Linked DNA regions of Homo sapiens. The protein of the gene in region 1 interacts with the protein of each later gene in a pairwise test. Each region holds a gene or a part of one and is shown in the gene's direction. Other genes may lie near its edges.

Region 1 (4,288 bases):
TCCCTAAGGACAATTGTTAATCAGTTTCCTGTATACCCTTCCAGAAATATATGCAGATGTGGCATATGTCCAATTAAAGAAACCTGATACATACTGTTAGAACTGTTCAGCATCTTGGTTTCAATTTTTATATAAAATTTAGGATTACGAAATATACCAAAGCAGCATAGAAAATGAGCCCCCCATCCCCCTGCCCCATGGCCCACCACACAGGTTAACAGATGTTAACATTTTGCATTGGCGCCTTGTTTATGGCTGTCTTGGAGATAGCCCCGTGTCGCCTCCAGCTGCCTCTTTGTGGTAACTGCCCAAGAGTCGTTATTGATTATATGCATGCACCCAATATTCATTATTCGACCTGTTCCAGCTCTTGGATATTTAGCAAATTACTGATTTTCTGCTTATATAATTGTGGTGGAGGTAATACCCCATTTTGTATAAATTTTGCCCGGGTGGGTGGGCTTCGAGGCAAAGGAGAACGAGGCTCGGCTTTGGATTAGGTTCACACTCCTGCTCCGCCACACTTCTAGTTGTGTGATCTGGAGTAAGGGAAGGCCCTCACTTTCCCCATCTGTAAAATGAACTGGCTATAGTAATCCCTCCGTCTCATAGCTGCTGAGAGGAATAGAAAACTAAAGTATAGACGCTTCACTGGGCTTAGTTCCCAGTTTCCCTGGCTAGGGAGGTCTCCGCGGGGACACCAAACTCTCAAGCCCAGCCTAGCAGCTAGAGCGCCCAGCGCCTGCACTTTTGCTTTAAACTACAACCTGTTCCCCGCCTCTCTTCCTCCACCGCCACGCTGGGGGCGTGGCGGTTAAATGTCTCTGTGACGTCAGCGCGAGCAGGGCCAATCTCCTTGCCCGGCAGACGTTAGCTCGTTTGCATGGGTGGTCCGCCATTGGTCTGTTGGGCAATCTGGGCCGTACCAGCTTTTTAAAGACGCCGTGTAGTATAAACAAGGAGAAGTGGGGCGGCCGGGCCATGATGTCAGCGCGGTGCTGCAGCTCTTGGGGGTGACGTCATCTCCGGGAAGGTGGCCGGCCCAGGGTTGTTAGAGCCAGCATAACCACTTGGGCCGCTCTCGCCCCGTCAGAGGTCAGACCCATTGCACTTCAGTATCTCAGGCGGCACCCTGTCCCCGAGGAGGGGACCATGACACAGTAAGTCCGTACTGCCGGTTCTCCTGGCGGGACCCATTTCTTCGGCAGGGAAACTGAGCCTCAGAGGCGCGAGTAGTTAGCGAGTTTGCATAGCAAGTTCGAGTTGCAGCCGATCGGTTTTGCCCACCCTGGGGTCTCCCCATCTTTATGTCAGGATATGCGGCCCCGCCCCTTGCTTTTGACTATGGCTGCGGTCCCTTTAAGTGCGAAGGTGGGGGCGAGGAGGAGGTTAAAAAAATTCAAGATGGTGGCCCACTAGTCACGTGCGTGGTCGCGGCGAGTGATTGGCTCTCAGGGCGGAGCTCCCGGCGCGGGGCGGGGCCCCTGCGGGCTTGCAGCGGGCTACTGTTTGCCGGAGCCTCCCGGCGCGCCCCCGCGAGCCCCCTCCCGTCTGGCGCGCGACCCCGCCGCTTCGAATGTTGTGAATCAAATGTGGGGTTTGTTACATTCCGCTGCCGCCGCGGACAGTTCTTAAAGGGCCAGCCGCCGGCTGCCGCGCAGACCCAGCTGCGTCCTGCGCCGCCTCCCGCTCCCTGAGGGCCTGGGCCGAGAGAGACTGATCGCGCGTGGGCCTCGCGAGGCAGACGCCGTCGGGCGGACAACAAAGAGAGAGGCCCCGGAAGGAGCCGGGCTGCCCCCGGACCCGGGGGTGGGGAGGGGAGCACATTGTTCCGCAGGGCGGGAGCTCTTAAAGGATCCAGACAGGCACCCCCCCCCTCCCCCGCCCCCTGCCCAGTTTGGCCGTCCTAGATCGGGAACAAAGGAGTCAACGTGTGGCCGGGCGGCCAAAGGTGAGTCGGTGCCAGGGCCCCCAACTTCCTATTCCCCCACCCATGGACCTTCTGTTCCCCTCCCCTGGGAATGGGGGCCGTGATCTAGGTGGCTCCGTAGGGGTTAATCACGGGCGGTCCAGACTGCGGGCAGCGAGACCCCAGGGATCAGGAACCCCCCCCAAGGCCCCCCGTGGCCGGGCCGTATCTCCCCTCTCCTGCAGCTGAGCGCTGCGGTTGGAGAGGAAGGAGCCGCCCCCCTCCCCCTGCGGCCGCCACTTCCTTTGTTGTTGCTTTTGTCTCACGCCGAGCACATGGTCCGGGATCCTCGGCTCTTAAAGTCGCAGCGTTCTGGCCCCTGCGCTGCAGTCTCGCCTCCCGCCCCCGGTGTCCCTCCGAGAGCGGCGCAAAAGAGTAGGAAGCGGACGAGGGAGGCCCCTCTCGGGGCTGTGTCCGCGCCTCGGCCCCCCAGCACTATGCCTGGGGAGGGGTGGCTGGGTAAGCTTCCCAGAGCCCCACAGCGTGCACTTGGCCCGCGTTGGGGAGCCCCCCCTTCCCCAGGACCCTGGTTTCCTCCCCCACTAGTGTGACCACCTGGTTTCTTCTGGACTCTTCTGGTTTTATTTGGGCGCTGTGGGAAGGAAAGATTTCCACCCCCATTTTATAGCTGTGCCAACTGAGGCGCTCAGAAGCAAAGGGATTTCCTTGACCAAGGTCACTAGGGAGTCTTCTCTCCTAGTCTGGTGGTCCGGCCCTCAGCGGCCTCCAGGCACCACACGTTGGGAAGCTCTGCTTGCGCTGGGCAGAGCCTGCTTGTTTCGGGTGGGGTGTGGGGAAGTAGGAAGGGGGGCTTCTCTTCCTGGCTGAGTCTGCTCATGCCCCCAGGGTCTGACTTTGTTTTTATCTGCAAAAGGGAGTGTCTCTTCCTGCAAACAGATCCCTGGGGCTCTTAGACCAAGGTCAGGGTAGGTGCTTGGGGCACTGGACTTAAGGGGTTGGCCGGCTCTCATGGGTGGGTGTGGGGGGTTATGTTAACTGCAAAATGCATTGCGTGCCTGGGGCGGACGGGGCTCAGCGACGGGACTCTCAAGACCCGTTCACACAGAGCTCCGTGATAGGACAGCATGGAGATGTGGACGGGCAGAGCAGTTGTTAGGGGAGGCCACCTGGCCACCCTTGCTATTTGACCTTGAGCAAGTTGCTAGCTCCAACTCTGGGCCTTGCTTGCTTCTCTGTACTACAGAGCTAAAGATGGGTGCCTGAAAGAGAGTGCTCTCCCAGCCTCCTGTATGGCTTGGAGACTCGGGATTAGGTGATTTCCTCCAGCTACTGATGCCACAGGAGTTATGGCTTGGGGGAGTTTGGGCCTAGGAGGCCAACTAGGACCAATTCCGTTCTCTCTGGTCTTGTGGCCTAGAGTAACTTACTTCCTTTCTCTCGGCTCCAGTTTTCTCAGCCATGAAGTGGGTGTAACCCTTCTACGCCACCCCTGTTCCTGGCAGGGCTTAAAGAACCAGGATCCACTCTTACCAGCTGAGGTATTCCCCTAGAGTGGCATATCTGCCTGCTGCCCCGGAAGTGGCACCCTTCAAGCTCTGCTTGAGGTTGGAAATGGAGGTCAGCGTGTCGTATTCGCTAATAATGATCATTCACACCCAAGCTAAGTTCAAACTTTACAAGTTGCTTCTGCTGTTGCCTTGGAGCAGTCCTTGATGGGAAACTGGGAGGTAGTTATTGGGCTGTTCCCATTTTACAGATGAAGATACTGAGGCTCGGGAGGGGAAGCCCTTGCCCACGGTCTGTAGGCAAGAATCTCGCTAGAAGTCACTGTCATGTGTGAGTCTGTGAGGGCTGACATTCTTACCCACGGCTGGAGGCCCTTCTGTCTCCTGGCTTGCTTTCACAGCTCCTTACCACCTTCCCTGCCCTGGGGAGTGGGTGCCTTTGTAGGGGGCTGGCCACAGAGCAGACACCCACAGGCCTGGGCCTCTGCAGGAGTGCCTTGGGCCTGGCACTACTCAGCCATCTGCAAGACATCCTGACATAAGAGGAGCAGTCAAGGCTGCTGGCTTGGTGGCTAGTCATGGGTGCTTTATGGCCAGACTGCTTAGGTCATGCACCTGCGCACTCACGATTCCAGCTGACTGGCCTTGGACCTCACCTCTCTGAGCCTTGGTGTCCTGACCTGCCAGTGTTGCTGGGAGGACTCACCAAGTTGGCGCCGGGGAAACAGCATGGTTATTATGGTGACTGTTCTGCACCAGCAGAACTATGGGCTCCCCAGCTTTCTGAGGTTAGCTAGGGTAGAGATTCCCAAATCTAGCTGTGCTGTGACAACTTCTGGGGAATTTGTTAAAC
Region 2 (2,235 bases), on another chromosome or scaffold:
TCCATATATCCATCATTCAACATCCCTAATATTAATATCTTTCATAACCATAATCCACTTATCACACCAAAGAAATTAACTGTGTACAGTATTCTTAACTAAACTGCAGACTTTATTTTACCATTTTTCTGTTATTATTAACTTATTTTATTTTAAGTTCTAGGACCATGGTTCATTGTAGCACTATTCACATATTTATTTTAATGTTCTTTTTTTCTGTTCTTGGATCCAATTCACATTGCATTTGGTTTTTATACTTCTTAGTCACCTCCAATTGCTCATGGTTCATTCGTCTTTTCTTGGCTTTTATGACCTTACAATTTTAGAGAGCCAGATATTTTGTGGAATATTCCCCAATTGAATCTGTCTAAGGTTTCCTCATATGTAGATTGAGGTTATACATTTGGGAAGAGATGTAACTCTTGTCTTGTGCCATCTCAGGGAGTCATGATGCCAATAAATCTTTGAGTAATTCTGGAATTGTTTTAAAATTCAGATTTTTAATAGAAGTCCTTTTCTTACTATATACCCAGAATCAACGAAGTCAAAAATCAAAGTCTTTGCCACGGTTTAGAATCATATATAAAATGATAGCTACATGTGAAGTATAAACCAAAGAGAATGATATTGCTCCACAAAAAGTGATGAAACACCTTATCACTCAACATTTTACAAGTGAATGCTGCCACCATGACTTCTCTTACACGCTTATCATCCTTCCTTATCACTTTGGAGCTACACTCTTATTCCCAAGTCTGCATATATGTATTTAGGCTGAAGGATATTATTGGGTGAAAGTAGGATTTTTAAAAAATGGAAGCCATCACGTCCATAACCCCAGGCTTTGGGAGGCCGAGGCGGGCGGATCTTGAGGTCAGGAGATCAAGACCATCCTGGCCAACATGGCGAAACCCCATCTCTACTAAAAATACAAAAATTAGCTGGGCGTGGTGGCACGCACCAGCTATTCATAAGGCTGAGGCAGAGAATCCAGGAGAATCACTTGAAACCAGGAGGTGGAGGTTGCAGTGAGATTGTGCCACTGCACTCCAGCCAGGCAACAGAGCTAGTCTCTGTCTCACAACAACAACAACAACAACAACAACAAGTGGAAGCCATGTGGGTTACTCTTGGTTGCTGGTAATGTAGTTTAAATTTGACATCTGAAATAAACGAGTCATCAAAATAGGAGATGGATCTCTTATTAAAGGTACATTATTTCATTATATTCAACATTCCTGAGAAACAGCAAAGTTGTCTTGGATGTATTGGTTACAAGGAATATTTTAGATGGTTTCAATGCTAATTAGTGTGGAATGTGAATCTAACAGTGCCTGTGATTTGTCCCACATACCATTCATGTGGCATTTAAGGCCCTTATTATAAGCTTAAAACTTTAAACTTAAAACTCTATAAACTTAAAACTCTAGAATCTGATCCTGCTATACAACTGAGCCTACCTTTCTTGAAACCATGAGCTTTGATAACAACTACCATGGTGGCCAGGGCTATGCCAAAGGAGGCCTGGGCTGCAGCTATGGCTGTGGTCTTAGCGGCTATGGCTATGCCTGCTACTGCCCATGGTGTTATGAAAGATCTTGGTTTTCTGGCTGCTTCTGAGAAATTAGAGATTGCTGATCTGTTTAGGCCATTCTCTTATGAGCTATGTTTTCTTCCCGTGTTTTTTTCTGTTCAAAGAGTGACAACTAAAATTTAGCCCACATTGCCAAGTCAGAATTTATTTGATCAATTAGCTGGAATTTCCAACAATTTAATCAAACGAAAAAAGAACCTTTGATGTTGTGTTACTAGTATATGATTAAGTACAAATAATGTTAAGCATTTTCATTTGGGAAAAAGTCTAAATTTATTTTTCTTCAAAGGTAATTTATTTTGCAAACCTACAGCATTTTCCTACCTATATTTATTTATCTAGAGTACCTATATTATTTGTGATTGTGTGTGTGTGTTCAGGAGCACATATGTAAGGTTGCTGACCCATTGGAAACTTACAGTTGATGATGTGGATGTGTTAGGTCTGACCAATAGTACTTTGATAAAATGTATTCTCATGGGCAGAGCCAAGTGGTACTATAATTTACTTTGATCTATCAAAGCCTCATCTTCAGTGTATCCAATGTTTGACTAAAATCATTGGCAAAAATAGTACCTCCCTTCTCATCACTTTATTCTGTTGCACATACATTACATTTCTTGATACTTAGTTGCATTTTT
Region 3 (2,609 bases), on another chromosome or scaffold:
AAATTTAAATAAAATAAAAATTTTAAAATGTGTCATTCGGTTACTCATAAATCTCAAAAAAATCTTAGTAGTATGATTATAGTCATATAAAACTGATACCTTTCTGGAGTTCCAAGTTTCAAGATATAGGTACATCTGGATGAGGCTTAATCAGGTATGAGGTAAGCCTTGGGCATTTCTAACTCTATGGGCTGAGCTGAGGGACTCACTGGTCAACTCTCCCTACAGAGCTACTCCTTCTTTTCTATATTTTTCACAATTGTCCCTTACATTTAGAGAATTTCGTGTTAATCTAAGTTGCACAAATATTTTTTTAAATTTCAGATAATTTGAAGAGTTGAAAAATGTTTTAAACAAGAAACACCATAATCAATATCTTAGAAGATCTAGTTGATTTCTCAGGAAAAGATAACTAGAAAGCGGTTAAAACAAAGCACAACAAAAAACATGGGCACAGAATAGGCAAAGACAAGGGCAAATATTGACTATGGAGATCTAAATGGAAAGAATGAATGTTGATTTGAGTAAATAGGTTGTAGCCAGAACATTTTACCTACTTCAAACTTTTACCTGGTTATAGTAATGAATTGTGGAGGAAAAGAAGTTGGGTGAAATTTGAAGTGAGATCAGCAAAAGATGCAAGAGGGATGAATTAATGACAAAAGGTAGAGAAAGAGAAACAATTCTGTATGAAGGCAGATTATAATCTTCATTTTTTGGTAACAGTGAGGTTAGAACATATAATGGAGAAGGGACTTGAGATATAAATAGAAAACTCTGGAAAGACCAGATGAGATGGGCTTTTGATCCCTGTAAGAGTCTCTCCACTTATGACTACAATTGTGCTATGTTCTTAAAACAAAACAAATATTTTGTATGCTGTTGTGCAAAGCCCAAAATAAATATAACAATTGTGCATGATCAAAGTTTTAAAAGTCTACAAATTAGGTGACATTTGTTTCTTTCAGGTACATACACAGATGAATCAAATCTTTCTTGCTTCTCACTCTACAAAATATGTGTGTTTTATGAAGAAACTGATGAAAGTAAGAGTCTTGACCTTGGCTATTTCTTGAAATTTTGTGGAATCAACTATAACCACGTCCAAAAATGCTAGTGATGAGAATATATTTGAATAGAAATTCAAGAATTTTTAATGTGACTGATGTTAAGTGACTGGTAATAAAGAATTCTATTTAAGGTTTGGTATGTTTTAGACTTTGAAGAAGCAGCAATCCCTTCTAATAAAATTAAAGCAGCAAGCTCAGGGACAACCTAACTAGGTAGCCAAACAAGCTCAGGCAATCTTACTGAGTGTTGTCAGGGGACAATAGATTAACGAGCTGCCTCAGGCAAGTATAATTCATGGAATGACACAAAAAGAGGGGCACATGTTTATCACATGCTCTGACCAGGGTATATAAACCTCCTATACATGCTGGCATTCACACTCAGGATCTTGCCTGAACAACAAACCAACTCACCACTCCTGACACCATGAGTCACTACGGCAGCTACTACGGAGGCCTGGGCTACAGCTGTGGAGGCTTCGGTGGCCTGGGCTATGGCTATGGCTGTGGATGTGGCAGCTTCTGCAGACGGGGTTCTGGCTGTGGCTATGGAGGCTACGGATATGGCTCTGGCTTTGGAAGCTACGGATATGGCTCTGGCTTTGGAGGCTACGGATATGGCTCTGGCTTTGGAGGCTATGGATATGGCTGCTGCCGCCCATCGTACAATGGAGGATACGGATTCTCTGGCTTTTATTAAATGAATTGCTGAAATTGGAAGCAGAGGAGAAACCTCCAAATGTGTTTGGTCCTGTCCCGTGCTTTCATTCCAAAAATCCATTCTATTGCCTTCAGCATCAATGGAGAGATATTTAGCTATGTTAAATCTTTAAAATAGATTTAAGCTGCTTCTGTGAATATTTGTTGTCTTTTTACTTTCGGAGTCCGTCACCTGAAATCATATTCATGTATAACTACTCTAGGTTGTTCTTCTAAATTTGCTTTATTTTTCTTACCACCATTACCTTGATGTTATCTATCAAGATCCTAGCAAAAACTTGTATTTTGCTTTTATCTAATAAATGAAGTAAAGTATAAATATTTTAGTTCTTGTCAATGTTTCCATTGTCATATTTAACATTTTATTTTGCAACTACTATAAAAAGTTTACTTATGAGGCAGTGAGATCTGTGGCTCCATGGTGGAATATGATGAAAATGTTTCTAGTTTACTGTGTTAACGGAAGCTTGAGAACAAATAAGATATCATATTAACAAGAGATAAAAATAACTTGCCTGTCTATTTACTTAGGATGTCAGCCCCTCTCAAGTGTCCCTCAAGTGTTCCTGGAATCACTAAGGATAGTGTCATTCTCATATTCTGCTGTGCAACGTTGGTTGCTGTTAGCTGAACGTCTTCTTGGTACCCCTGTTCTGGCCAGGCATGTGTTTGCTTTTTGTCCACCCTTCAGTTGAGGTTGCGGCAAGGAGATTGGGAAGTTTCACTCATTTCCTACTCAGAACTACATTCTATATTTAGCATCTCCCTGAAGGCCATTGTCCAATATTTGACTGAGGCAACTCCCACTGAAATGCGGCA
Region 4 (2,264 bases), on another chromosome or scaffold:
GAGATCAGGAGATCAAGACCATTCTGGCTAACATGGTGAAACCCCGTCTGTACTAAAAATCCAAAAAAAATAGCCAGGCGTGGTGGCGGGCGCCTGTAGTCCCAGCTACTGGGGAGGTTGAGGCAGGAGAATGGCGTGAACCCGGGAGGCGGAGCTTGTAGTAAGCCGAGATGGTGCCACTGCACTCCAGACTGGGCGACAGAGTGAGACTCCGTCTCAAAAAACAAACAAACAAAAAAATCAGGAAAGATGTTACAGTGAATACAAAGAGGAGATAGAAAAAAAAAAGCGTTGAGATAAGTCGATGGAAGACAGAGGGAATGTATGCAATAAACTTCTACCTGGCTGTTTCTATAGACATTAAGAAAATGGGAAGAAGAATAAAAGCTGAAATGAGAAAGGAAATAGAGGTCATATATACACTACTGAAAAATGATAAAGAAAGAAAGTAATTGACTAGAATGTGCAAAACAGAGGCAGATGCAATCTGCAATTTTACCAGGACTTTGAATAAAACCAATTATAAAGGAGAGTTTTAGGACTTGAATGGAAAACTAAAGTGCTACTCTGATAAGTCTGCGTAGGAGATGGATTTTGTGCCCTCAATTTCTGAAATTAATTCTTATGTATTTTGCAACCAAAAGGTTCTGAAGCTGGTGTGCAAAGTCAAAAATAGTATAAAAGTTATTGTGAATAAAATGCTAAAAATCAGCATACACTCTCTTTTTTTGAGTCCTTTGGCGATTGTACACAGCAGGGCATTAAAATCATTTTGATTTCAAATGTTTTCCTGTATTGTGCATATAGGCACTTTCTGAAGACCTCACCTTGATAAATAAGTTTGCTTTTTAAAACTATAGATTTAACATCTGTAAATTGAAAAAACAGCTGTAAATTTAGTTGAATATGAAGTTATCAGTTTGGAAGATGACGGACAAAGGAAATTATTCATTATAAAAGGAATACCATAAAGTGTAGATGATGTAATACACCTGGTAATAGGCAATTCTGTTGAGCATTTGGAATGTGCATATTTTGAACAGTAAGCCCTTTCTTTTCATAAAAGCAAAGCAGTAAGTTCAATCGTGTCCTGAATAAGACATTAAGTAAGCTGAAATATTTTAATGAGAATGAGGGCATCTCCCTACATCAGAAGACAATAGATAAATGAGTTGTAACATCAAACGTAATACAAATAACTATAGCAAAGGAGGGTATACAGATGACTCATCACACGCTCTGACCAGGGTATATAAGCCTCCTACACATGCTGGTGTTCACACTCAGGATCTTGCCTTGAGCAGCATACCAACTCACCACTCCTGACACCATGAACTACTACGGCAACTACTATGGAGGCCTGGGCTACGGCTACGGAGGCTTCGATGACCTGGGCTATGGCTATGGCTGTGGATGTGGCAGCTTCCGCAGACTGGGCTATGGCGGTGGCTACGGAGGCTACGGATACGGCTCTGGCTTCGGAGGCTATGGATACCGCAGCTGCCGTCCATCATGCTATGGAGGATATGGATTCTCTGGATTTTATTGAAATCCTTCCCTGACAACCTAACATGAGGGGACATAAGAAGATCACCCAAACCTGACTGCAATAACAAACAAACGAGGTCACCCTGGATCAAGCCAAGATCAAGAGCAGTTAGCATCTAAGAGGTTTAAGAATACCTATCATTCCATAATTCTTTGCTTTATGTCTCTGGATGTGTCTTACTTGTACCTTTATAACTGTGGGGTTTCTCTGTTCCTTTTAGAATAAATTATGCTAACTGAAAGCAAATACACGACTTTTGTTTTTTGCTTGACTCAAAATGGCAAAGTGGTTATTTGTAATTATATCCAGTGAAAAAAGAACAAACTACTATACATATAGAAGTATATTATATATAACAAAATAATTTTGTATATACATGCACCTATCTATATAGCTGTATGTATGTGTGTGCATGTATATATTCACATTCAAAGGTCACAGTTGACCCTTGAATAATGTAGGGGTTAGCAGTACTGATTCCCCCATGCAGTTGAAAATCCACATATAACTTTTGACTCTCCAGAAACCTAACTACTGGTAGCCGACTGTTGACTGGAAGCCTCACTGATAACATAAACAGTTGATTAACACATACTTTGTGTTTTATATGCATTATATACTGTATTCTTACAATAAAGTAAATAAGAGAAAAGAAAATGTTATGAAAATAATAAGGAAGAGAATTTATATTTACTGTTTGTTAAGTGGAAGCGAC

What was found. Proteins that work in one complex are often made in the same cells at the same time.
Region 2: the proteins of RNF44 (region 1) and KRTAP22-1 interact in a two-hybrid assay, tested with the Homo sapiens proteins (one large-scale study listed by BioGRID).
Region 3: the proteins of RNF44 (region 1) and KRTAP19-1 interact in binary tests that used the Homo sapiens proteins (3 or more experiments, as listed by UniProt).
Region 4: the proteins of RNF44 (region 1) and KRTAP19-5 interact in binary tests that used the Homo sapiens proteins (3 or more experiments, as listed by UniProt).

Annotation. Positions count from the first base shown.
Region 1 is NC_000005.10:176,534,603-176,538,890, reverse strand, and holds the start of RNF44 (RING finger protein 44), read left to right. Parts: upstream 1-1,488; 5' UTR 1,489-1,951; intron 1,952-2,242; exon of another isoform or gene 2,243-2,428; intron 2,429-4,288.
Region 2 is NC_000021.9:30,599,648-30,601,882, forward strand, and holds KRTAP22-1 (keratin-associated protein 22-1), read left to right. Parts: upstream 1-1,439; 5' UTR 1,440-1,473; coding exon 1,474-1,620; 3' UTR 1,621-1,735; downstream 1,736-2,235. UniProt on the Homo sapiens protein: In the hair cortex, hair keratin intermediate filaments are embedded in an interfilamentous matrix, consisting of hair keratin-associated proteins (KRTAP), which are essential for the formation of a rigid and resistant hair shaft through their extensive disulfide bond cross-linking with abundant cysteine residues of hair keratins.
Region 3 is NC_000021.9:30,479,206-30,481,814, reverse strand, and holds KRTAP19-1 (keratin-associated protein 19-1), read left to right. Parts: upstream 1-1,447; 5' UTR 1,448-1,497; coding exon 1,498-1,770; 3' UTR 1,771-2,109; downstream 2,110-2,609. UniProt on the Homo sapiens protein: In the hair cortex, hair keratin intermediate filaments are embedded in an interfilamentous matrix, consisting of hair keratin-associated proteins (KRTAP), which are essential for the formation of a rigid and resistant hair shaft through their extensive disulfide bond cross-linking with abundant cysteine residues of hair keratins.
Region 4 is NC_000021.9:30,501,157-30,503,420, reverse strand, and holds KRTAP19-5 (keratin-associated protein 19-5), read left to right. Parts: upstream 1-1,279; 5' UTR 1,280-1,330; coding exon 1,331-1,549; 3' UTR 1,550-1,764; downstream 1,765-2,264. UniProt on the Homo sapiens protein: In the hair cortex, hair keratin intermediate filaments are embedded in an interfilamentous matrix, consisting of hair keratin-associated proteins (KRTAP), which are essential for the formation of a rigid and resistant hair shaft through their extensive disulfide bond cross-linking with abundant cysteine residues of hair keratins.